2 separate regions of the Homo sapiens genome follow, and region 2 is linked to region 1. Evidence: fine-mapped expression QTL. A gene starts in region 1. The other region holds a variant in brackets. All regions are shown on one strand. Distances are from middle to middle.

The links.
Region 2: its variant is fine-mapped to the expression of PRKAB1 in whole blood (INTERVAL, PIP above 0.99).

Annotation. Positions count from the first base shown.
Region 1 is chr12:119,659,805-119,671,521 of GRCh38, forward strand. PRKAB1 (protein kinase AMP-activated non-catalytic subunit beta 1) reads left to right here and starts at 8,329. Exons shown (of 7, transcript NM_006253.5): 1 at 8,329-8,599. The coding sequence starts at 8,441. It overlaps PRKAB1-AS1 (PRKAB1, TMEM233 and CCDC60 antisense RNA 1), which reads right to left and starts at 8,323. Exons shown (of 3, transcript NR_188494.1): 1 at 8,139-8,323. RefSeq lists enhancers at 5,897-6,041, 8,176-8,585, 9,024-9,659, a cis regulatory region at 5,961-5,978 and a silencer at 7,806-8,075.
Region 2 is chr12:119,567,710-119,583,817 of GRCh38, forward strand. All of the region lies in intron 1 of PRKAB1-AS1 (PRKAB1, TMEM233 and CCDC60 antisense RNA 1), which reads right to left. Among named protein-coding and RNA genes, the nearest start is that of TMEM233, 18 kb to the right of the region's middle. The variant G/A (reference allele first, on the strand shown) is at 8,983.

The DNA of each region.
Region 1 (11,717 bases):
TCCTCCCGCCTCGGCCTCCCAAGCTGCTGAGAGCCACTGCATCTAGCCTAGAAAATTTAATAGATATTAAAACAATTGAACACCTAGTTTGTTCTCCCTCTCTGAATGACCATTCCAGCTTTATACTTATAATCTAGATCAGCCCAATCCATTGGCCCACCCAAAATGATTTCATCCCTCACTCAATGATCTGTCCGTGGTGGCTAAAATGTTGACATCTGTCTGGTTGCCTGCATTTGAATGCTGGTTTCATGACTTTCTAGTTGTGTGACCTCGAATAAGTCACTTCATCTCTCTGAGCCTCATTTTCTCCTGAAAAATGCAAGTGGTAATAATAGTAGATCCCTCAAAGGACTGTTGGTGGCATTACATGAGTTCATACATCAAACACAATGCCGAGTGCATAATAAGGATTGATAAACAACTTTCACTTTAACACCTACAATCTCCAAATCTCAACTTGATTGTCACTTCCTTCAGCAAGCCTCCTCTGACCTCAGGACTTGGTCACATCCTTCTCACTAGGTCACACTTCTCCTTCTTAGCGTTTGTCACAGAAGACTGTTGGATGATTGTTCGATTAATTTCTCTCTTCCCTACTAGATCGTAAACACTCAGGACAGAGCCTGGGTTTGATTTTGCCCACAATTCTCTCCCCAGTGTCTACCACAGTGCCCGGTGGATAGGAGTTTTTGCCATGAAAAAGTTATTGATAAAGAAATGAATTAATGCAATTAGAAAACTGAAGGCCTCTGAAAAAATCAATATTAACTAGAACAAGTGCCATGAACTAGTTAGGTTCTGATGGGCTAGATGACATGAGTCATGAGACACTTACAGGGAAGGACAGGGTGCGGAGAGGTTTATTTTGTAAGACAGTTGCAGAAAATAAATTGGAAAAAAGATAAACTGTACACCTCTACCATTTGTTCTAGGACTAACCCTATTTTCTTTGAGGTAAAATTCATACAACATAAATGTTAATTTTAAAGTAGACATTTTTAAGTGAACAATTCATAGGCATTTAGTACATTGACAATGTTGTGGAACCACCATCTATGCCAAGTCTTAAAACATTTTCATCATTCCAAAAGAAAGCCCTCATTCCCTCTTCCGCCAAGCCCGTGGTCACCACCAGTCTGCTTTCTATTGACATGGATATATCTATTCTGTATATTTCATATAAATGGAATCATATAATATATGACCTTTTGTGTCTGGCTTATTTCACTTAGCATAATGTTAATATTTTTGAGGTCATCCACATTGTAACATGTAACAGTACTTTATTCCTTTTTGTGATAGAAGAATATTCCACTGTATGAACATACCACAATTTGTTTATAATTCATTTTGTTATTGTTGTTACAGAGTCTTTCTCTGTCGCCCAGGCTGGGGTGCAGTGGCACAATCTCAGCTCACTGCAACCTTCGCCTCCCAGGCTGAAGCAAGTCTCATGCCTCAGCCTCCCAATAAACTGGGATTACAGGTGTGCGCCACTACAACCAGCTAATTTTTTGTATTTTTAGTACAGATGGAGTTTCACCATGTTAGCCAGGCCGGTCTCGAACTCCTGGCCCCAAGTTGATCTACCCACCTCGGCCTCCCAAAGTGCTAGGATTACAGGTATGAGCCACTGTGCCAGCCTACAAACTCATCTCTTGGTGGACATTTGGATTCTTTCCACCTTCTGTCTATTATGATAATGCTGCCGATCCCTGTTTTTTAAAAGTCTCCATGGTTCATCATATCAAGAAGAATGATAATCTCACAGTACCCTGGACCAGAAACCAAGACATAAGATCCAAATTATGATCTATGACCACTAACTTTTTCTATAATTCAGCAAGCTATTGTCCCTCCTCATCTGTAACCTATGTGGTTGAACTAGGATTTTCATGCAATTAGTGTGTCTTGGGAGGTGTTTCTGAGTATTTATTTGGAAGGTGCTCCTAAAAAGAGATAAAGAAAAGGAAAGGAAGATAATCAATGAATTCCTTGATCCAATTACTGCTGTGGACATCTAGGGTGCATTTCCACTGGGGACCTCTGAGACACGGTAGGGAATATATCTTAGTTATACGAGAGCTAAAAAGAAATTATTTAGACAGTTAGTGAGGGTAAGAGAGTCCTCAGTAAGGTTTTTCTTTTAATAAAAACGCAGTCTCCAAATCATTTCTTTTTTTAACAAAAAGCAGCCTGAAAAATCAAGCTGCAAGCATAGATAAGCAAGCTAGAGGCTTGCATAGGTAAATACCAGCAGCTGTGCCAATAGAAAACAGATAGCTGGAAACCAGGTATATTCAACATGGAGGTTCCCTCTTCCCTTTTCTTTGTTGCCACGTGTGCAGATAACATGGCACCAGCCAGGTTTTTTAAAATTCCATTTGCATAATAAAAGATTAGAGTGGGATGACCAGCCTCTTCACGGGCTATGAAAATGGCACATCTGGTCCAACCAATCCACTACACCCCATGTAAATCATATACCATCTCCTCACGCTCATCCCTAAAACCAACCACACCTTGCCCCAAACCAGGGAAACCCACTCAGGACCCCTTCTTCTGCATGAGGAAGCTCTCTTCCTTCTTTCATCTATTTAACTTTCCACTCTTAAACCCACTCCTTGCATGGCCATGTCTTCAATTTCCTTAGCATGAGACATCGAACCTCGGGTGTTACCCCAGAAAAATGACGCTGCTTCATTAGAGTTAGCACATCCAAGGGGCAAGGGAACTGGCTCCTCTGTGGTTGGCTGAGGGCTTCTCTCAGGGTGTCTTCTCTGGTCCCCTTGGGTTCCCACTTGTGTCGACAAAGCTTTCTCCAGAAGGCCCTCAGAGTTGCACCTGCTCACAGTTAGGAAGTTTGGGGCATGCGCAGAAGGGCACATGCAGATGGGGTATGATGGTCCCAACAGCATATGTTAAAGTGATTATGAAACTTTGATATTCAAATCCCTGGGAGCTTACATTTTAAAGAGATGAGACAGAGACAGACTTCCTCTCATTGTTTTCACCTCCGTTGGATCTTTGCCTGGATACTGCTTTAGTTTGTCACTTGTCCTCTAGAAAAGGGGTAGAAAGTGTACATCCTTTTCTCCTCCATTCCTTCAAAGCTCTTAAAAGAGGATAGAGATGCCAGGTGCAGTGGCTCACACCTGTAATCCCAGCACTTTGGGAGGCCGAGGAGGGTGGATCACCTGAGGTCAGGAGTTTGAGACCAGCCTGGCCAACATGGTGAAACCCCGTCTCTACTAAAAATACAAAAAGTAGCCAGGCGTGGTGGGGTGCGCCTGTGGTCCCAGCTACTTGGGAGGCTGAGGCAGAAGAATCGCTTGAACCCGGGAGACGGAGGTTGCAGTGAGCCGACATTGCACCACTGCACTCCAGCCTGAGTGAAAAGAGTGAAACTCCATCTCAAAAAAAAAAAAAAAGAGGATAGACTTGAGGTGAACTTTATTAAGAACATTGTGTTACCTTGAACTGGGCACTTCTCCCTTCTAGGTTTCAGCTTACCCTGTGAGTGAAGCTATTTATTTAAAAAAAACTTTATTGAAAATAAAATAAAGATACAGGAAACTACACAAAAGAAATGTATGGCTTAGTAAGTTACTACAAGGCAAACATGTTAATAATTACCAACCCAGGTCAAGAAACAGAATTTTCTCAGACAACCTAAAAGTCACAAAATGAGGCTATTTGCCAATTAAGGTTGTAGACCAAATGCTGTAGAATGAACTTCTTTTAATTCTATGTTGATGACTCTCTGTCACAATATTCACATCTCAGTGCAAAGAGAACACAAGAATGTCTAGCAAGAAAAGATGGACAAGTTTCTCAAACATTGGCAGTGTTACTTACATTGGCTAGGCAAAATTCAGAAGGCCTGGTGGAAATCTGGTTAAGCCCTAAAAGTAAGCTTGTAATTCTATCCTAGCAGCCCACACACATTTGAGTCTGTCTTAGTCAGCTCAGACTGCTATAACAAATCATCAACTGGGTGGCTTAAACAACAGAGATTTACTTCTCCCAGGTCCGAAAGCTGGAAGTCTAATATCAGTGATATAATTTGGATACTTTTCCCCCTAAATCTTACACTGAAATGTAATCCCATGTTGGAGGTGAGGCCTCCAACATGGTGGGAGGTGACTGCATCATGGAGGTGGACTTCTCATGAATAGTGTAGCACCATCGTCTTGGTGCTGCCCTCACAAGATCTGGTTGTTTAAAAGCGTGCGGCACCTCCTCCCACTTTTTTTCTTACTCCCACTCTTGCCATGTGATACATCAATACATCGGCTCCCCCTTGGCTTCCTGAGGCCTCACCAGAAGCAAGCAGATACCCAGAGCCATGCTTGCTGTACAGCCTACAGAACCATAAGCCAAGTAAACCTCTTTTCTTTATAACTTACTCAACCTCAAATATTTCTTTATAGCAATACAAGAATGGCCTAATACAATCAGGGTGCCAGGATGGTTGATGTGTGGTGAGGGCTCTTTCCCTGAGTTGCAGATGGCCGCCTTCTTGCTTTGTCATCACATGGCCTTTCCATTGAGCATGGGCGTGAATAGACAGCATGCGAGCAAGCTCTCCAGCGTCTCTTCTTCCCATAAGTACCCTGATCTCATCATGGGGGCCCCACTCTCATGAGCTCATCTAACCCTAATTACCCCTTGAAGGCCCCACCTCCAAACATTATAAAATTGGGAGTGGGAGTGCAAATGTATGAATTTTGGGGGGATACAATTTAGTCTACAGCATAGTCCAAATGTGAAATTTCTTCCTCCAGCTACCGATGTTTAGTGAGAACACTGCCTGTTCTCACCACATGTGCATATGTGTGTGGACTCTTTCCTCTGGAGGGCAAGAACTTGGTTTTGTTCACTGTTGTAACCAAGAGTTACAACAGTGCCTGGCTCATAATTGGCACTCAATATTGCCATTGAGTTATTTGTGATCAGAGCCCTGGCTGTTCTTAGATGGGGAGGGTTCTTCAGAACAGTACAAATGTTTGTAGACAGGCCAGCTGGGGAACCAAAGGTCTTTTTGATGAGGTGCCATGACCATGATGTAGTGGGGAGTGGCCAGGTGATCCAGAATTCAGTCTCAGTATGACCTATGATCATCTGAGTGACCTCAGGCAAAACTGTTCGATCTCTGGGACTTAGACTCTTCCTTATATAAAACAAATGGGTTGGTCAGTTCAGAAGTGCTATACTGATTCTAATCCATCCTATGGAGGAGGCCCCAAAACATTATCCTTAACCCTTTTAATCATAAATTTAAGGATAAATGAGATTTTATCTCACTCTGGGTGACTTTTAAGGACTTGAAAACCTACTTCTTTTTGTGCTTGGAGCTGGAGTGAATTTGAAGCCAGGGTTGCGGGGGTGGGGGAGGGGTACTCCTAGCTGTGGCTGTGTTAAAATTGCCCTGGTTTGTTTGGGGGAGAATCTAGGGTATTTATCATTTGTCTTTGCCCTGGTGCCAGACAGACAGCAGTGAGTAGATGATGCCTTTTACACAGCAATGTGCTAACAGTTATACTTCCTGGCACACCTCCAGCCCCCAAGATGGAATGGTCTGACATCCATATCAGCAGAGAATCAGAGAAAGATGAGACGCTCTGATGCTTAGGAAAGTCACAAACCATTGTTACACAGATAAGTAACACAAAATGACCCAAGAGAGACACAGCTGGGACCCAAGTAGACACTTGTAATTGGCGAGTCTACCCTACCCATGATTTTCAATATGGGGTCAATAGCTGATAGATACCAATGTTAGTTTCTTTGTCATGAAATCTTGATACAATGTGGTAAGAGTTTCCAATCAGCAGTTGGTGGCATCCTCAGGATATTGTTGATTGTATTTGACATCAAGGGCCACCCATGCTTTCACTGTTATCTTATTCAAGCTAGTGCAGATGTCTTAAAACTTTCTTCATGCATCAAAGCATCTGCATAGCTCAGATAAAGAATCCACAGCTCATGTGTTCTTTCTTATCTCTCCGGCTGTTTGGGAGAGATTTCAAAACTCAACACCCCACTGTCTCATGTAACCAAGTCAGGGCCACTATTAGAAAAGCAGCTCAAAGAAGATATCCTGGGTCATCCACAGTATCTTAGCTTATTTAATTCAGCAAGCACATTCAACATTTCTGATTATACTGAATACATTCAAATTCTCAGTCATCAGCTTCAGGAAGACCCTCCTGGCTCCCATCCCTTTTCCTGGCTCCCATCCCTTTTCCTGGCCTGGCTTAAGTCCCTTCTGGGCTCCCACAGGATCCCTTACCTAGCTATATTATTGCTTTTCTGTGGGTCGGTGCCAGCCTGTACTGTATTAATTCCTTTGGGGCTGGAACCATATCTTATTTTTTTAAATTAAAAAGTAGTACATCCTCACAATAGAAAACTTTTCAAATACAGAACTATATAAATGAAAAGTGAAAGTCCCTTTTCTGTCTGCTCCTATTTGCAATCTCCCTCCTCTCCCCACAGAAGACCACTATTAACAATGTGTTGTATACCCTTCCAGAACTTTCCATTTGCTAGCCTAATAGTGCTAATAAAAGTGTTAACAGTTATTGAGTGTTTACTAAGAGTCAAGTGCTATGCTCAGCATTTTTATGCACGTTCCCAATTAATTCACAAAACAAGCCTATGAAGTAGGTGTTATTTTTGTTCCCATTTCACAAAAGAAGAGACTAAGGTGACAGTTACTAAATGGTAAAGCCAGAATCTGAACATGGCCAGGCTGAATTCAGAGCTCCTGCCCTTGAACTTGTTCTCTCACTTGCTTCCGGACCTTGCAATATCATAGACACTTCCCCATAGTGACCTAAAAATGGTTTCTCCCTTTTTAAAAGTTGCTTGGTATTCTACAAAATGAATGTATTCCATTCATTTTGCCATTCTCCTACTGAACAACTTTTAGGATTTTGTAGTTTTTCATTTCCTTATTTCACCAAGTGTAAGATTCCATTATTGTAAAAAGCATCCAGTTTCAGAAATTAAAATATATGGGGGCATGGGGGGTGACAAGTGCATCTTAGAATATATTTTTGCATGTAAATATTTTGTAGATAATGCTTGTAAATAATTTTCATGTGTGTATTTCTGCACAAGTTTCCTAGGAGTAAAATTGTGTGTCAAAATGAAGGTGCATTTTTAAATTTTGATGCATACTGCTGAATTCCCCCCAGGAAACCTTATCTTAGTCATCTTGTGTTCCTCATTTCCTTAGCACAATGTCTGGTACTTTTTTAGGTACTAAATAAATGTTCAGTGGGTGAAATGCATGACCTGACCCGGCAAATGCAAAGTATTTTGAGATATTCACACACCAAAAAACCCACAAAATATGACAATGACTGACAATGAGAAGATGAGAATATTTTACTACCGTATTTGTATGCACTTCTTGTTGAAGCACTGACCAGAGTAAATGACAAACGCTAATGCATCTTATGCAGAAGGATGTTTCCGAAGTGATTACAAGATATCTTGCAAAATTACCTATCAAAAGATTGCACACTCAATAAAAATACACGAATAACTCCAGCATTTTACAACCCCCAACCTACTAGACATAAGAAATTTCCAGAGATCTTATGGTCTGCCATTTTTTCAAATACCTGCAAGACTGCCTGCACCCCCGACCCTAATCTGTAGAAATCATGATTCTGCAGGTCTGCAGTGGGGGATGCATTTAACAAGCGCTCCAGGTTAACCTAATGCACTGTAAAGCGTGAGAACACGTGCATTAAAAGGGCTTTAAGAAGTGGAGTTTCTGAATCAGATTTGCATTTTAGAAAGATCCCTCTGGCTGCAGAGTGTAGAATCAACTATAAGTGAGCAAAGATAGCTAAATGGCATTATTCAGCCCAGCGCATGAACGGCTCAGATTGCCCGCGCGCTGGGGTGCCCCCTGCCGGCCCTCGGCAGCGCCTCGTCCTGGGCCTGGCCCTGGGCGGCCGGCTGCTGACTGCGACTGCGCGCTCCGAGGCCTGCAGAGACGGCCCGGGGCACCTGTTACCGCACCGCTCAAGACCGGAAGCGGAAATGGAATCGAGATAGCCTCGCGCGTTTAGCTGGCCGCCGCCACCTCCACGCCCTAGGCCGGGCCGACTTACGGAGTCGCCGGAAGCGGAAGTCGCTGAGGGGTGGTGAAGCGGTTGGGAAAGTGTCGGTTTATCTTCGCGCCCCTTGCGTTCTTGCCGCGGCTTGCCTGGGCAGGTAAAGCGCGATTGCGAGAGCTCGGCAACCCTGCCGACTCAGCCGGAACCGGCTCCCGGCCCGAGGGGCGTGGTGTCCTGGTGCTCCGACTCCTTCCGCAGGCTCCTTGGGACCCGCGGTTCCGGGAGTCCCTTGCTCAGGGTCCCTTTCCTGCAGTGAGGCGCCGTCCGCCTTCCCTGTGTCCCCGCAGACCCCCATCATGGGCAATACCAGCAGTGAGCGCGCCGCGCTGGAGCGGCATGGTGGCCATAAGACGCCCCGGAGGGACAGCTCGGGGGGCACCAAGGACGGGGACAGGCCCAAGATCCTGATGGACAGCCCCGAAGACGCCGACCTCTTCCACTCCGAGGAAATCAAGGTGCGAGCGGTGTGGAGGAACCCGATTCCCCTTGACTAATGTTGAGGAGAGGAACCCTCCACTAGATTCCCGTCACATCCTTTCGAAAAACACCAGAACGGAGAGGGAGGTGGTACATTACCCGGTGCACTTAAAAGCCAGATGGTCCTGTAAGAGTTCTCTTAGCGGTCCAAGAACCTGTGTCTAATTACCAATATGAGAAAGTCACCCTGAGGGAGGAGGTGCTCACTTGGTTTAACATCATTAAGGAGAAAGCAGCTCTGGGACAGAGTTTCAAATTCTTAATTAATTCAGAGTCGAGCTAACAGTAATTGAGCCCCAGCTTCTGCTTTTCTCTTAGGTGTAATTAATTGCACTGCTTTGAGACAAATTCCCTCACCTTTACACAAACTGGAGCTTTTGTAAAAGTTAGTTTGGGAATTTATCCATTTTGGAGGCAAACCAGGTACATATACAAGCTGAAAGTAGAGCGGAACAGCTGACGGCAGTTGCCAGAGGTGTTTAGTTCTGCCCAACACTTTTGATTCACCCTACTTATTTTTTAAAAGACGGTGGTCTCACTAATTAGCCGGGCGTGGTGGCGGGCGCCTGTGGTCCCAGCTACTCGGGAGGCTGAGGCAGGAGAATGGCGTGAACCCGGGAGGCGCAGCTTGCAGTGAGCCGAGGTCGCGCCACTGCACTCCAGCCTGGGCGACAGAGCTAGACTTCGTCTCAAAAAAAAAATATAAATAAAAATAAAAAAGACGGTGGTCTCACAATGTTCTCCAGGCTGGTCTCGAACTCCCGGGTTCAAGCAATCTTTATGCCTTGGCCTCCCAAAGTGCTGGGATCGCAGGCGTGAGCTACGGTGCTGGCCGGTTCAGCCTACTTTTTTTTTTTTTTGAGACCGAGTCTCGCTCTGTCGCCCAGGCTGGAGTGCAGTGGCGCGATCTCGGCTCACTGCAAGCTCCGCCTCCTAGGTTCACGCCATTCTCCTGCCTCAGCCTCCCGAGTAGCTGGGACGACAGGCACCCGCCACCACGCCCGGCTAATTTTTTATATTTTTAGTAGAGACGGGGTTTCACCGTGTTAGCCAGGATGGTCTCCATCTCCTGACCTCAGGAGATCCGCCTGCCTCGGCCTCCCAAAGTGCTGGGATTACAGGCGTGAGCCACTGAACCCACCCTACTTATTTTTTTTTTTTCCTTCTTTGAGATGGAGTCTCACTCTGTTGCCCAGGCTGGAGGGCAGTAGCACAATCTCGGGGCACTGCAACCTTCGTCTCCCGGACTCAAACCATCCTGCCTCAGCCTCCCGAGTAGCTGGGACTACAGGCGTGTGCCACCATGCCTGGCTAATTTTGTGTATTTTTGGTAGAGGTGGGGTTTCGCCATGTTGCCCAGGTTGGTCTTGAACTCCTGACCTCAAGTGATCCGCCCGCCTGGGCCGCCCAAAGTGCTGCGATTACAGGCATGAGCCACCACTCCCGGCCTCACCCTGCTTTTTTTTAAAGCGTACATAGAAAAGTCTTTCAGCTTCTAGAGGTCAGTGGGCGGTGAGGGTCTGTCTGAAGGAGGCAGCCAGCAGCTACTGAACTTCTCTCTAGTGTTGTTTAAATATGACTTAATCGTGCTTAAGCAGGCCAGTGCAAACATTTTTCTTCCTGCTGCAGCCTGTTTAAATTCAAAAACTCAGGTGACTTAACTCCTGCTTCAACCACACTCCTGTTAACCACCTTCATATGGTGGATATTTCCAGCCGCAGGGCTCAGTCCAAGGACACTTAGTGATTCTGGCAGCTGGTATTTATGTGTTATGTCCAAAAGGAACTAATTGTTTCAAGGAACAAAGTAGGTTTAGGAAAGATAAAGCTGCCCTCTGCCCAACATACCCTGTTAGTATCCAATTTCATGTTAATCATCATCCATTTAATTGCTTGGCAGCTCATTCCATCTGTGTTTGTCCTCATGTTGAGCGAGGTGATCACATCTCACACCTTCTTTTGGATCTTAGTTTTGAGCCTGACTACAAAGAGGCTGCTTTTATGTGGCCCTACAACCTGTGGTTTGAACTTGCTCTCTGAATTTGTTGCATTCTTGAAGAGCTGTGTGCAAAGTGAACTTTAGAATCATGTTTCTCTAATGACTTGACGTCCTTTCCCCAGGAGGTAATTTTGGTCCCTGGTCCCAAGAAGGCTATTTAAGACACCAAAGGAATCAAAACTACTTTCTTCAGAAGTATTTGTTCTGTTACTATTCCAAAACTCCTCCAGGAAATGTTGAGCACACACATCATCTATGGGGAATGATTTCAAGCAGCGTCCATTCTCACTTCATTAGAAGTTACTGAAATCCCCAGATACCAAAAAAGTCGTGAATTCTTTTAACTACACTAGGGTGCTATTTTGGTCATAATTAGTTATCCTTAGTGTGAAGTGATTCCAGTCTGTTATTTAATATGTAGATCTTGTTAGAATTCAAAGAATACAGGCATCATTTGGATAAGCTGAGGTCGGTATTTGAGATGAAGGTGCTAGAAGCCTGCTTAACTCCCTGAAGAGTCTTTTCCAGCCTGAACCTTCTGCTCTTTTTAAGTCTTTGGCTTCTGACTGGGAAAAAATCTAAAAGGTGCATGACTACATATGTCATCCAGATAGATTTGGATGAGTTTATTTCTTATTCTGGAATACCTCAGTTATACGGAGCTTACCACACTGGAGGTTATCATTTATCCTAATGAGGGTTCAGTCTTTGTCTTGCTTTATTCCCCAGTCCCTAGACAGAACTTTGTGAGTAGTTTTTCCCTTCCTCAAAATCTGGATTTGCCTATTTTCAAGTTGACAGCTCTAGAATTGTTCCTCTTAAATTTTCATGTACAGTCATACATCACTTAATGACAGGGACATATTCTGAGAAATACATCATTAGGTGATTTTATCATTGTGTGAACATCATAGAGTGTACTTACACAAACCTAGTCTGTTCTCATGCTACTATGTAGAAATACCCGAGACTGGGTAATTTATAAAGAAAAGAGGTTTAATTGACTCAGTTCCGCATGGCTGGGGAGGCCTTAGGAAACTTACAATCATGGTAAAAGGCACCTCTTCACAGGACGGCAGAAGAGAATGAGAGCAAGCA
Region 2 (16,108 bases), 90 kb before region 1:
ATTATATATAATATATATAAATTATATATAATATATAATATATATAAATTATAATATATAATATATATAATATAATATATATTATATATAAATAAATAAATGATTTTTTAAAAAATGAAATGTTGGTTCTTCAAGAAAAAATAATAACAGATGCAGGTCTCTGGTGAGATTGATCTAGTAAAGAGAGAGAAAAAGCACAAATGGAGAATATGTCTAAAAATACGTAAAAGAGAGATTTTAAAAGATAATGAAATACTATGAAAAACTTCATGACAATAAATTTGACAGTTTAGACTACATGGAAAATTATATATGGAAAATTATATATTTTACAAAACTGGCTCAGAAAGAAACAGAAAACAAGAATAGTTCTAAAACGAAGAAAATTTGTCAGTAATTTAAAATATTTCCTCAAAGGAAAGAAAAAGATCTAGATAGAATTGTAAAAACTTACAGCAAATTTTCAAGAAACAGATAATTCCAATTTTATACAAGTGCTTCCGAAGAATTCCTGAGAGGAAATGTACCCGTTAATCTAATATAATTCCGATACCAAAACCAGACAGAAAATGAAAAAGGAAAGTTACAGGATAATCTTGCAAATAAATATATGTGCAAAAATCCTAAATATCGGAAAGCAAAACCTAGCTATATGTTCATGAAATATATCATTCATATATCGTATCGTAAACTATATCATATAATAAAATCCTTCATGGCCAATTTGGCTTATACCATGAACGTAAGATTAGCTTAACCTTTAAAAATCCTTTAATGTAAATTGTCACATTTTCAGATCAAAGGAAAAAAACTATATGATCTTGTCAATGGATGAAGAAAAGGCATTGGATAGAATTCAACATTCATTTGTAATTTGTTTTAAAAAACAGAGCACACTTAGCAAACTAGGAATAGGAGAAAAAAAATAGTTAACTTGATAAACGTGTCTACCTAAAACCTGTAACAGAAATCATAATTGCAGGTAAAATTTAGAAGTATTCCCTTTAGAGGAGGGAACAAAAGAAGGGTGCTCATTCTCACTTCTTCCATTCAAAATTGTACTGGATACCCCAGCCAATGCAATAATACGAGATGAATTAAACCAAGGTAGAATGATTAAAATATGGCAACAAAATGAATTATTTGCAATGAATGTGATTATTCACATAGAAACTGCAAAGACTCTATAAATTATTAGAATAAATTAGGCAATTTAGCAAGGTAATTGAATATAATAGTGATATAAAATTTAACTGTATTTATCTGCATCAACAACAAACAGAAATATAACATTTAAAATACTCAACAGGCCAGGCACAGTGTCTCACGCCTGTAATCCCAGTACTTTGGGAGGCCAAGACGGGCGGATCACTTGAGGTCAGGAGTTCGAGACCAGCCTGGCCAACACGGTGAAACTGCATCTCTACTAAAAATACAAAAATTAGCTGGGCTTGAACCCAGGAGGCAGAGGTTGCAGTGAGCCGAGATCATGCCACTGCACTCCAGCCTGGGTGACAGAGCGAGACTCCTTCTTAAAAAATAATAAATAATAAAATAAAATACTCAATGATGATGGCAAAATAAACTGGTAGCCAGAAATACAGATATTTTAAAAATAAGCAGAGCCTCAAGTGGAAAATTATACAACTATACAACTCCCTTGAAAGACATTAAAGACATATTTATATCAAGAAAGACATTTCTCCCCAAATTGATTATATAAATATTCAGGCAATTTCAAATGAAATTCTAATAAAGTTTTTTGTGAAACTTGAAAAGCTAATTCCAAAAGAGAAAAAAGCCAAAGACAGCCACGACATTTTTTGGAAAAGAAAAAGAAATCAAGACTTACCTTAGAAAACTATAGCAATTAAGATAGTACTTTATTGGTGCAAAAATATTAAAAATAGTTTAATTAAACAGAGTAGAGAGTGCAGACACAGTACTAGACATACGACAAAAGAAATATCACAGGTCACTAGGAAAAGTATACCCCTACTCTATAAACACCACTAGGACAATAAGCTATCTGTAAAAAAATTTTTTTTAATTTGATTTCTACTTCACACTATTAAAAAATACAGCTCCAAATGGATTAAAGACTTAAATGTGAGACCGGGCATGGTGGCTCACACCTGTAATCCCAGCATTTTGAGAGACCGAGGCAGGTGGATCACTTGAGGTCAGGAGTTCAAGACCAGCCTGGCCAACATGGCCAAACCCCATCTCTACTAAAAATACAACAATTAGCTGGGCTTGGTGGTGTGCACCTGTAATCCCAGCTACTCAGGAGACTGAGGCAGGAGAATCACTTGAACTCATGAGGCGGAGGATGTAGTGAGCTGAGATCACACTACTGCACTCCAGCCTGGATGATGAGACTCCGTCTCAAAAAAAAAAAAAAAAAAAAAGACTTAAATGTGAAAATAAAAGTCTAAATTTTTGAAGAAAATATGAATGACCTTGAGTTTAATAAAGGATTTCTAAACGAGTTATCATAAAGGAAAACTGAGTTCTATGCTCAGATATATTTGGCAATATAAAAACTTCTACTTACAACGTCATAAACAGGGGACTTCACTTCTGGTTCTGATGAACTAGCCTGTATCAGAATGTTCCTGGCAAAAGCAATTTGAAAAGATTAATAAATGCCCAAAAAATCTATCTGAAGGCATTGCAAAGATATCAAAGCAGCCAGGGCTTAAGAGGTTAAAGTTCTCTGAGCCCGCCGAGGTTAGTCTGACATTCTATGCCATCTTCTGCCAATTTGTCAATAGCACCAAGCTAAGAAACTGAGAAGAAAGTGGATATAAGAGGTTGAGCTGTTTAGCAAAGCTTTCCACCATCACAACAGTACTGGAGAAGCAAAATAAGAGCTCAGGATCTAACAAGGAGAAAGGTCACAGGTTGCATTAGTCTGTTTTCACACTGCTATAAAGAACTACCCGAGACCGGGTAATTTATAAAGGAAAGAGATTTAATTGATTCACAGTTCCGAGTGGCTGGGGAGGCCTCAGGAAACTTACAATCACGGTAGAAGGTAAAGGAGAAGCAAAGGCACATCTTACGTGGCAGCAGGAGAGAGAAGTGAGAGCACAGGAAAAACTGCTGCTTTTAAAACCATCAGATCTTGTGAGAATTTCCTCACTATCACAAGAACAGTATGGGGGAAACTGCCCCGTGATCCAATCACTTCCCCTCCTCCACACGTGAGGATTACAGTTCGAGATGGGATTTGGGTGGGGACACAGAGCCAAACCATATAACAGGAAAGCACACCCAGGCTTTCACTTGAATTTCAATGAAAGGGCTGTCCCTTTCACTGAAAAGGGCTATACGCCAAAAGTGAGGGCAAACCAGAAATAAGACGCCAAAAGTGAGGGCAAACCAGAAATAAGACAAACCTCATGAAGACTGAACCCAGTGATGTGCCAGAGCTGGCTCATATCAACTTCTGAGGAGCCAGTTGTTAAATTTACATTAATTCTGTGAACCACCTGTTAAATGCAGCCATTATTTAAAATGATTATATGAACTTACAATTAAATAAATTATATTTAAAACAAAGATGATGACCAGGCACTATGGCTCCTGCCTGTAATCCCACCACCTTGGGAGGCGAACGTGGGTGGATCGCTTGAGTTCTAGACCAGCCTGGCTGACATGGTGAAACTCTGTCTCTACTAAAAATACAAAAATTAACCAAGTGTGGTGACGCATACCTGTAATCCCAGCTACTCAGGAAGCGGAGGTGGGAGGATCACTTGAGCCTGGGAGGCAGAGTTTGCAGTGAGCTAAGATTGTGCCACTGCACTCCAGCCTGGGCAACAGAGTGAGACTCCCACTCAAAAATAAATAAATAAATAAATAAAACAAAGATAATAAAAATTCAATGTTTTCCAATTATTTTACAATATTTTATTATTATTGATGCTTCGAGGTTATTTCTTTCTATAGCATATATATGGTAGAAACACTATATAATGGTGTGCTAACTATACATCTCTTTCCAACATCACACTTAGTGACCTCAGGTTGGTGAGAATATTTACACCACAGAAATTGGTAACATTACAAATAAACCTTGATTAACTGTTTTGTTGATTGTCTAAGCCAGGGACCAGCAAATTGTTTCTGTAAAGGGCCAGACAATACATATTTGCAGTTTTTTAAGCCACATAGTCTCTGTCACAAGTATACAACTCTACCACTGCAGTACAAAAGCAGCCAAAAACAATATGTAAACAAATGGGTGCAGGCATATGGCAGGCAGATTTGACCCACAGCTGTAATTTGCCAACCCAGATCTAGACTTTTAAAAGTGATACATAAAATATTAACCACGTAGATTAAACTTAAAAGGAGTCATCACATTATGAATAACAAAAAAGAAGAAATACTCTTCCAGTATTGAAACTATTATCCAACTTAGCAAAAAAGTTGCTCATATCATTGACAAATAAGTGAAATTCCCATGTCTTCATTGTTTCATTTTTGCCTTTCTCATTAACCTAAACAAAAATATCAACTAACATTCATGTCAAAACTACACTCATTCATCAACGCAACCCTAGGTTGGCTAAAGATAAAAGAATTTGACAAAAATCAATAAGAATTCTGTGAGAACTGGGTATTTGAAATTTACTACTAAAATATTGTGTATTTTTAATTATTTGCAAGTTGAATGTTACATGTCCTTTATATCAGGAAATTTATAATAAATATATATGTAATTTATAATATATGCATGTATGTGTGTGCAGATATGCATATATAATAAATATTTATATATTAATAATACGTGTACATCACTACCCAGAGAAACCACTACAAAAACTATACAGAGAGATATTGAAAAATACTAGAAATAAATCAAAATGGAATCTCAAAAAGTATTCAAGTAACCTATAGGAAGGCAAGTAAAGAAAAACAGAGGAGGCTGGGCGCGATGGCTCACGCCTGTAATCCCAGCACTTTGGGAGGCTGAGGTGGGTGGATCACCTGAGGCCAGGAGTTCTAGACCAGCCTGGCCAACATGGTAAAACCCCGTCTCTACTAAAAATACAAAAATTAGCCGGGCATGGTGGCAGGCGCCTGTCCCAGCTACTCGAGAGGCTGAGGCAGGAGAATTTCTTGAACCTGGAAGGCAGAGGTTGCAGTGAGCCAAAATCGCGCCATCGCACTCCAGCCTGGGGAACAAGAGCAAGACTGGGAAGGAAAGGAAAAGGAAGGAGAGGAGAGGAGAGGAGGAAAGAAGGAAGGAAGGAAAGAAGGAAGGAAGGAAAGAAGGAAGGAAGGAAGGGAAAAGAAGAGGAAGCAAACACAACAAATAATAAAATGGCAGACTTAAGTTCTAGCATAGCAATAGATTAGGGCCCATCCCACTAACCTCATTTGAATGTAATTCCCTATTTAAGGGCCCTATCTCCAAATACAGTCACATTCTGGGATACAGAGACTAGGACTCCTACATATAAATTCTGGGGAGACACAGTTCAGCCCATAACGTAGGCATTAGATGACTATATGCTAAATAAATGAATGAATGAATGAATGAATGAATGAGTGAATGGTTGAAGCCTCCATTATAACATGTCTTTTGTGAAAGGAGATGTGAATCCCAGATGCCTGAGATGAGGATATGTGGGCTTTTTTTATTGTCCTGAACTCCTCCCATTAAACCAGTGAAGCAAAGTGTAGGGTATGGCCATTCCCAGTGGGACACCAGGGAGCCAAGCTAAGTGCCAATACAATCTACTTATTGCTAGTGCTCTGATATCTTCAATCTTCTAGCACTAAACATTGAGGTCAATTCTCCAAGTGCCAAGGAGCCTCCCCCAGTCAAATTCAGTCACCTTTTGAAACTAACCCTTACTGATCCCTAAATGTCAGAGAAGGCATTTAAGCACAGACAGCCACCACCCTAAGGAAGGCTTTCATTGTCGGGATATGTTGTAGAGAGTTTATCTAGTCCAAAACCTATGGCCATTTATTCTCAATTTTTCCATGTCAATACAACCACTGTGGCCAGAGTCCTAATTTCAAATACGTAGTTCCCTTGTCTTCCTATGCATACTTGCCCAAATCTGGACACCAGAATACTAAGCCCGGCCCCAATCTCTAAAAATGCCATTACCTATAGGCCGGGCATGGTGGCTCACACCTGTAATCCCAGCACTTTGGGAGGCCGAGGCAGGTGGATCACGAGGTCAGGGGATCGAGACCATCCTGGCTAACACGGTGAAACCCCGTCTCTACTAAAAATACAAAAAATCAGCCGGGCGTGGTGGTGGGCGCCTGTAGTCCCAGCTACTCAGGAGGCTGAGGCAGGGGAATGGCATGAACCCGGGAGGCGGAACTTGCAGTGAGCCGAGATTGCACCACTGCACTCCAGCCTGGGAGACAGAGCAAGACTCCACCTCAAAAAAAAAAAATGCCATTACCTATAAAAAAGAATGCTTTGAGGTTAATCATCTGAATGGTTCCTTCAAGTCCTAAGACTGCTTGTCTTTAGACACCCTGATTTCTTAATAAACAATGATGTCTTTGACATTTATATGTCACTTTATTCATTCTCTCATTCATTTGCTTGATATTAAGTGGGTGTTTACTACATGCCAGGCACTGTTCTAATTCCTGGGATACAATAGTAAAGGAAGGTTTCTGCTTTGTGAGGCTTACATATTAGTGAGGAAGACGGATGCTGGGTAAATAATAGCAGTGATGATGATGATGATGATGATGGTGATGATGATGATGATGATGATTGTTGATGATGAGGAGGATAATAGTTGGAAAAGATTATTTCAAACAATATTAAGTGCCTGGGAGGGAGATGATGTGATAGTGACTTAGTGGCCACATTAGCTCATGTGCTAACAGGAGGCTTAGCTGAGCAGGCAACATGGGAGCTGAGGCCTGAATATCAAAAAGGAGCCAACCACATAAAGATCAGAAGGATGGTATTCCAGATGGCGGAAAGAGCATATGCAAAGGCCCTGTGGTGGCAACAAGGGTATTTAGAGGAACAGAAGGAAAAAAAAAAAAAAAAAGACCAGTATGTCTCCCAATATCGAAAGTTCACTAAGTGTCCAGAATAATATTTTCTGTCTCATGGTTTAAGCTGAATTCTCCCAAATGTTTGGGAATTAGGAAAGGGCGTTCATTCTTGTAAACACATAACACCTTCTCCATTATTCTTTTCATGAGTTCAGGTTTTGATAGCAACTATTCTCAAGTTTCCACCCTCTAATTTGAAGCATCCCGATGGCTCTGGCTTACCTCATGCCACCTCAAATCCTCTTGATAAAAGTCACTTTGTCCTTTTAAAGCCTCCAACAACTAAGACTTACTGAGTGCTTATCACGTGCCAGGCACTGTGATAAGCAATTTACATGCACTGTCTCCTTTAATCATCACAACAACTGCATTAGAGTTGGCATTATTGTCCCCATTTTATAGGCAAGAAAACTGAGGCTCTCACAGACTGACTTGTCCGAGGTCACCCAAATGAGAAGCCAGGGGACGGGGATTTGACTTATCCAGGCATGTGCCCTGCCATTTTTGGCTACCATTATCCCAGACATGAGTAGGTGACCTTTGGCCTAAGTTAGTTTCTAAAATCATGGAGGATCCCAGAGAGTCCTCAGGCCTTTCTAAGGTAACTTACAATTCTGCTGATACTGTTCCTAAAAGCCATTTGGGACCAGACCCAGGTTGGCTCCATCTGAATCTCAAGGGAGGATTTTAATAAACAAAGATCCTAGGATTAGAACCCAGGCTAAAAATACATCTTCCCCTTTTGAAAAGCTCCCCCTGGTGACTTTGGTGAGCAGCCAGGAAGAGCACTGGCCCATCTAACCCGACCTCCCTAGCCTACACAACATCTTCAGAAAAACTTTCAGAGACCGGAATTCATCACATCCCAATTTTAGCCTTAATATTGGAAACTTCTTTCTTTGTTGCCTGAACTCTGCTGTTCTCAAACTTGGGCTGCCTAAAAAGAAACGGAAGTCATCCAAGGCCATAAGATTGAAAATTCTTATAAACAATTTCACATCCTATTTCCTGAAACTGATGTTTTGTTTTGGTTTTTGTAAGGAACACAAACCAACCAACCCAGCACCTCAGAGTGCGAGTCATAAAGAAACATACTTGTTGTCCCTCATCAGATTCACTGTGCAAAAAGATCAAAGAGACAGAAAGAACAGAGATGTGAAAAGGGAGGCTGGAGAAGGAGGTAGTTGACTATGATAGAAAGAAATGAGAGGGAGAATGGGTTAAATATTGGGATCTGTGGCTCTTTTAAAAACCCACTTTCAATCTTTCACAAAAGAACAAGAGAAAGAATCATCCCTTAGCAAAATCATGTCGAACCTTCCTTGGCCAAAAAGATGCAGGAAAGTTTTAATTCTTAATGCACAAAAATTCCCTAGGAGCCCAAGAAGAGCTTTCTTGCTGGATTGTGATAGAAAGCCCACTCCTTCATGTATAATTGAAGACATTTAGGATGACATTACAACCCCTCCTGCTTATACACGGATCTGCCTCCCATCCCTGGCTAATGTGCAGCGCTCCCAGGAAGCTCTCTTAAGCAATTAAAAATGGTCCATTCTGCTGCCGAGCAAGAGTCTGAGCTCATCCCAGCCTCTGCGTGATCGGCACAACACATTCAGGAATCATTCACTTCAAGCATGCTCATTCTTCAAACTGTTCCCAAACCACACTTGCTAAATATGTAGGTTAGGGTCATCTTTTTTCCCAAATAACACAAATAACAAAATGATTGTTTTTGATAAGCATTTCCTCTTAATTTGTCCAGTTGGTTTCTAATTTACCAAGTATAGGAAATAAAACTAGATTATGTGTGTTCCCTACCCTTCGGGAACAATTTGCTTCTGAAAGTTTAATGCTAGAATCCCCATCTTCCACGTAGGAAACCTAATTTAATTCATAGCAAATATTGCACCAGAGTGTTATTTT[G/A]CATTACAACTGTGATATACACCGTCTCCAAACAATGGGGGAGTGGGGAGGGAAGGCAGGAACAGTTACCTTTTTAGGTTGTATAGTTTAAAGTAGTTATTAAAAGTGTGGTCCACAGACCAGTGGCACCTGAGAGCTTGCAGAAATACAAAATGCTGCTTTAGAGCAGTGATGCCCAACAAGGGTGATTTTGCCCCTTAGGGGACATTGGGCAATGTCTGGAGACATATTTGGTTGTCTCAACTGAGGATGGGGGTGCTACTGACATGAAGTGGGTAGAGGCCAGGAATGCCACTCAGCCTCCTACAAGGCACAAGACAGGCCCCCACAATAAATAATTCTCCTGCCCCCAAATGTCAACAGTCTTGAGGTGGAGAAACCCTGATTTAGAGGAAAGTGAATGGGAAATCGTGGGGTGTGAGGGAAAGTGAATGGGAAATAGTGGGTTGGGAGTAGGGAGAGTAAAAAGAAATTGCTTCAACCTGCTAAATAATAGAAGTAATAGTGAGTCATGGAATTGGGCTGTGATCATGGAAGTTGTGTACCCATAAGGAAGTCACTTACCCTTTCTTGATTTCATTTTACACATTTATAAAATGAAGGGGAAAAATAAAATTGAGCCAAAAAGAATTACTATCTACAAGGTTCTTTTCGGGATAGACGCATTATAATTTAGGTAGTCTTTTGCAAACTTGAGTAATCTATAGATCACCTTCACTATGTTTTCCATATCTGAGTGCCATCTCTGTTAGTTAAGGTTTTACTTTAACTATTTTGTGTTTTTAAACTGTATTTTAAGAGAAAATTTTATGTCACTGCCATTAGTTTAAAGCCACTTCTACTTCACAAAACTGGAAGTAAACACAATTAATAGACATCCATGTTATTAAATTCTAGCTAGGTAACATTGTCCCCCAAGACTTTGAGACTCAGGCCAGCCCCCTCTTGATCAAAAGGAGATGAATGAAGGTTAGAAGGCTAAGGGTATATTTGCACCAACTTGAGACTTTCTGTACCACCTTAAATGGTCTTACATTCCATCAGTGGGATGCATCTACCCTTTGGAAAATCACGGTATGGAGATTGAGTGGGCAAACTTTGGAACAGATCCATTTGGGTCCAAGACTCAGCTCCACCATTCATTGGCTGTTGGATATTAGGCAAGTGATTTAACCTTGGTAAGCCCCAGTTTCTCATTGGGAGTTAGTAATAGAACAGCCACTGAGATGGCCCCAGTGATCCCCACCTTCAGACATTCATGCCCTTGCATAATCCCCTTCCCTTGAGTCCCCTTGAGGGTGTGCTGGACTTAGCACTTACTGATTTGCTTGTAACCAATAGAATACAGCAATAATGATGGGATGCCACTTCTGAAATTAGGTTGCGAAAGAATCTCTCTCTCTCTCTCTTTCACTCCTCTCTCTCTGTCTGCTCTGGTTCTCCAAAAACAAGCTGCCATGCTGTGAGTACCCTTATAGAGGCCCACATAGCAAGGAATTAAAGTCTCCAGCCAAAAGTCACCAAGAACATGAGGCCAACCACAGCTATGTGAGTAAGCTTGGATGTGGATCTGCCACCCACACCACCCAATCAAGCTTTGCAATGGCTGCAGCTCCAGCCTTGCGAGAGATCCTGAGTCAGAGATATCGATCTAAGCTGTGCCCAGATTTCTGACTCACAGAAACTATGAGATATTACCTACATGTGAGATGATACATATTTGTTGTTTCAAGCTGCTAAGTTTGGGGATAATTGGTTATGCAGCAATAGATAACTAATGTAGCTACTGTGAAGGTTATACAAGATAATGGCCCCCCATTCAAAGGAAAAGTCATACTGGAAACACTATTATACAATGTGGAGAAAATCCACAATAGCTGCTAGTATTAATCAATGAATTCCACTATGAATATGAATGGACAACCAAGGATCCTCAGACATTTGTGAACTAAGATGAACAAATAACACAACTGAACTTCAACCAAAAAAAGAGAAGCTATAAAAGAAAAAAAATAATGTTTTTCTTTGAGACAGGGTCTCATCTTGCTGCCCAGGATGGAGTACAGTGGCTCAATCATGGCTCATGATAGCCTCGACCTCCTGGGCTCAACTGATCCTCCCATCTCAGCCTCCCAAGTAGCTGGGACTACAGCTGCACCACCATGCCCAGCTAATTTTTAATTTTTTTGTAGAGACAGGGTCTCACTATGTTGCCCAAGCTGGTCTTAAACTCCTGGGATCAAGTGATCATCTCACCTCACCCTCCCAAAGTGCTAGGATTACAGGCATGAGCCACCACACCCAGCCAAGAAAATTTTTTTTAATTATAGTTAGTAGTGTCTTCAGAGAAAACCAAGAAGATATTCTTTTTGTTTTTGTTTTTGTTTTTGTTTTTGAGATGGAGTCTCATTCTGTCATTCTGTTGCCCAGGCTGGAGTGCAGTGGTGTGATCTCAGCTCACTGCAAGCTCCACCTCCCAGGTTCATGGCATCCTCCCGCCTCAGCCTCCCGAGTAGCTGGGACTACAGGCGCCCGCCACCATGTCTGGCTAATTTTTTATTATTTTTAGTAGAGACGGGGTTTCACCGTGTTAGCCAGAATTGTCTCGACCTCCTGACCTCGTGATCAGCCTGCCTCAGCCTCCCAAAGTGCTGGGATTATAGACGTGAGCCACTGCGCCCGGCCAAGATATTCATTTTAAAATAATAATTAGTGTTGACAATTATAAGGTCTACAGAAAAGACATTATCAGAAAATAGGAAGGCCCTCTAAAAAATTAAAAGTCATACTACCTAAATTTTTAATTTGGTGCACAGCCTGGAAAATTGTCAAGAACCTAAGGGGAAAAGACATGCAAAATATAAACACTAAGAGACACAAAAGACAATCCAGCAGATTCAAAATTTATTTAATAAGAGACCCAGAAAAAGAGGAACAGAAAATAGAAGTGATAAAAATAATTACCAAATAATAGAATAATTCTCAACTCATGCAGAAAAGATAACAAAATCCAACAGTTATAAATAATTTTTACATTAATAAGCTAATGGAAACTTTCTTAATATGATTTTTAAAAAGCCAAAACAACTACAACAACTGATTATAAGACCTCACTCTGAATCACCTAGGTTTACTTATGTCTATTCTGGCCAAATGTGAATGATATTCATGTAAAGCTATATTTTAAAATTATAACAAAACTTCAATTAAAAAGTAAATTAACATTTTCTTTAAAAATCTATCACAAATAGATTTACTGGTGAAACTTTAGAAGCATCCTCATTAAAGTCAGTAACAAGAAAATAATATTTGCTTAACATTATAAAAATTATAATTAAGAAGAATAAATGATGTTTAAGAATAGGAAAAGAAGCTTCTTCAACCAATATGATTAGCTATACAGAAAATGTAAGAGAATCTATAGACAAACTGTTAGAACCAATAAGCGTATCCAGAATATCAACATACAAATATCAGTATAATTTCTACATTCTAAGAACTACCAGTTAGAAAATGTAATAGAAAAAAAAAATCCCACTTAAACAGCAAGAAAAACTATAATGACTATAATTATGAAGAAAATTATGAAACATTATTGAAATACATAGATGAAGCCTTGAATACATACAGACAAATTTGGGAAGACTTAATAACTTTTCCATTTTTTTTCCATCCATGGAATACACGTTTGTGCTTCACGAAACTTATTTAAAGACAATATGAATTGTCTATGCTAGTTTTTTAAATAAAAGCAATGGGGAACAACACACACTGGGGCCTAGAGGTGGGGGTGGGAGGGTGGGGGTTTTGGGGTGGGGGGAGGGAGAGCATCAGGAAGAACAGCTAATATACACTGGGCTTAATACCTGGGTCATGGGTTGATCTGTGCAGCAAACCACTGTGACAGATGTTTACCTATGTAACAAACCTGCACATCCTGCACATGTACCCCTAAACTTAAAAGTTGAAGAAGAAAAGTAGGGTTCACCCTATCAGATATTAATACATCATACAAATGCATAGCAATAAAAAAAACATGCAGTAGTGGTGTGGGAAGTGGCTACTAGAGCCATGTATAATCATGGATGGTTTGGAGGAAACTATTAGGTTGGTTCAAAAGTAATTGTGGTTTTTGCCATTGAAAGTAATGCGAAACTGCAATTACTTTTGTTCCAACCTAATAACTCATTGTTTGAACAAAACTGAAAGTGGATCCCTGACTCACACCTTTACAAAGATGAGCTCCAAATTCCTTGAGGATGTAAATGTAAAATGTGAAACCAGAAATCTAATAGAAGCAATTGTCAGAGAATATTTTTGTGACTTCTAAATGAAGAATGACTTATTAAATAAAATTTAAAACCTATACCATAGGTGGAAAACTGGTGGTACATCAAAATTAAGGTTCCCTGTTTAAAGAAATATCACATAGTTAACAGATAAATGATAGCCTGAAAGAAGGTATTTGCAACATATAAAAAACTGCACATTCTGCACATGTAACCCAGAACTTAAAGTATAACAAAAAAAATTAAAAAAAACAAGAAATTAACATCTAGAAAATAAAAGAAACAAAATCAACAAGAAAAGAAGAAAGCCCCAATAGAAATAGAAAAATTCAGAAGAATATATTGACAGAGAATTTACATATAGGGAAATCTGAATGGCTGAAAAGTAAATGAATAAATGTTCAATCTCACTAGTAATCAAAGAAATGCAAATTAAAACAATTAGATACTGATTTACTCCCATAAGACTGGCAAAAGCTGGAAAGCAAGCTAATAACAGGAATCTCCATGCATTCTGATGGGCATGTAAACAAGTACAGTCATTCTAGAAAACAATCCATCAATAGTTAGTGAAAGAAAATCTGTGTATACCCTAGGACTTAGCAACCCTGCCCCTGAACATATGTACTCTATAGAAACTCTCACACAGAACTCTAACGTGGCATTTATAAGAATGTGAATTGCAACAGTGTTTGTGCTATAGGGAGCTAAAGACCACTAGATGTCCATTACTGAAGAAATGTAACAGCAAGTTGTAATAGATGCGTGCTTTGAAATACTATGCAACTGTTAAAAGGAATTAACTAGATGTACATATAGCAGCAAAAATACATCTGAAAATCATATTGCTTTTAAAAGGTAAGAAACAATGGTCTCTGTTACAAAACATTTTTTGTATCATTTAAGCACATATACACATAAAATAATGTATTGTGATACACATGTAACCAGATACATACACCAAAGACATTTAAGTGGGTGCCTGAGATTGGGGTATGGAGGGGATAAAAAGAATCAAGCAAAAAACAAGGCCAGAGCCTTGAATGGACCAATGACAGTATGTAAAATGAAGTGAGGAATACCATTAACTAGCCCTTTGCACCTGAGATTAAAAAAAAATGCATGTCACAAAGAAGAACAAAGGGCCAAGAATAGCGAAAAGGATACGAAGAAAGCAAGCATGAGGTTGGATTTGTCCTAGCAAATATCAAGGCTTTTAGTAAAGCTATAGAAATTAAGACAGGAGTGCAATAAAATCAAGTCTCAGGATGACACGTATGCAGTGGGCATGAAAAAAATGGTCTAAATTAGATCACAATGTTAGAGAACTCTAAAAACAAAATAGATAAATTATATATTTACAAATAATCTAGATTAACTTGATGAAATTGAATGGCATATAATAGAAATAACAATAGCTATATGGTTACAATATGCTGTATCCTCTTGATATGGTTTGGCTGTGTCCCCACCCAAATCTCATCTTGAATTGTAGCTCCCATAATTCCCATCTGTATGGGAGGGACCTGGTGGGAGTTAACTGAATCATGGGGGCAGTTTCCCCCATAATGTTCTTGTGGTAGTGAATAAGTCTCACGAGATCTGATGGCTTTATAAGGGGTTTCCCCTCTTACTTGGCTCTCATTCTGTCTTGCATGTCACCATGTAAGATGTGGCTTTCGCCTTCCACCATGATTGTGAGGCCTCTCCAGCCACATGGAACTGTGAGTCCATTAAACCTGTTTTTCTTTATAAATCAGCCAGTCTCAGGTATGTCTTTATCAGCAGCATGAAAATGAACTAATACACTTCTGCCCTCCCAATGATCCTTCCTCCCAATTTTTATTAATTATATTCTCCTCTAAAAGACTCAACTGTAATGAAATAGGATTAGGTCCTTCTCTATAAATTTAATCATGCTACTTGATTCTGCAGTAAATCATACTTAGGTAACACTATTGAAACTATCCATTGGTGATACCACCTTTGGACAAAGCCCAAAAGAATTACATTCTCTATATCATAGAAAACAAAATTTACATGTTGTAAACCTTGACAATGCACAAATAATGTCAGAGAACAATTAGGGGGTAAAGAGATTTGTGTGTCATATTTAGAGAAGCAGTTGACAGGTGTATAAGGCACAAGCTCTGAGAGGAAAGTTGATGCTTTATGGAAAGTGCCCATCATCATTTTGACCAGTGGAAGATGGTGTAAGAAATTAGAGGCAAAGAGAGAGGGCAGAAAGGTGAGGCTTCAGGGAACCAAAGAGCAAAGCCAGCCAGAAAGGATGAAAGACTACGCTCTTCCCTGTGGTTACAGGATAGCAGAGATCCAGCCCAAAAGGGCTCCTCGACTTCATATGACTCCAAGATTAGGTGCTTTTGCTCTGAAATATTTCAGAAACCGTAAGAGTGAGTGTGGGAAGAAAAAACGTTCCACCTTCTTCAACTCTGAAGCACTAAAATCCATTGTGAAAGCCCCATTTTTAGGGCAACTGCAATTTAGTCATTCACAAGGCAACTCACTTTACAGTTAGTCCACTTGAGGTTCTGAATTAAAGGATGCCACAGCCACTTCCAGAAATGCCTGTGGAATTACACCTTATTGGAGGGGATATGTCTAGTTGACATCAATTCCGCTTTCCCTAAGATATATGTGCATGTCTTATGCATCGTTAAGCACGTTCTCACTTCAAAACCTCTGGTCATTCTATTCCTCCTAACAGGCTTAAAACCCTACTTTTCACATGCCTTCTTCTTTTCATGCCACAGATCTCTGGTTAAATGTTAACATCTTAGTGAGGTCTTCCCTTACCATTCTATCTAAGTACCTTG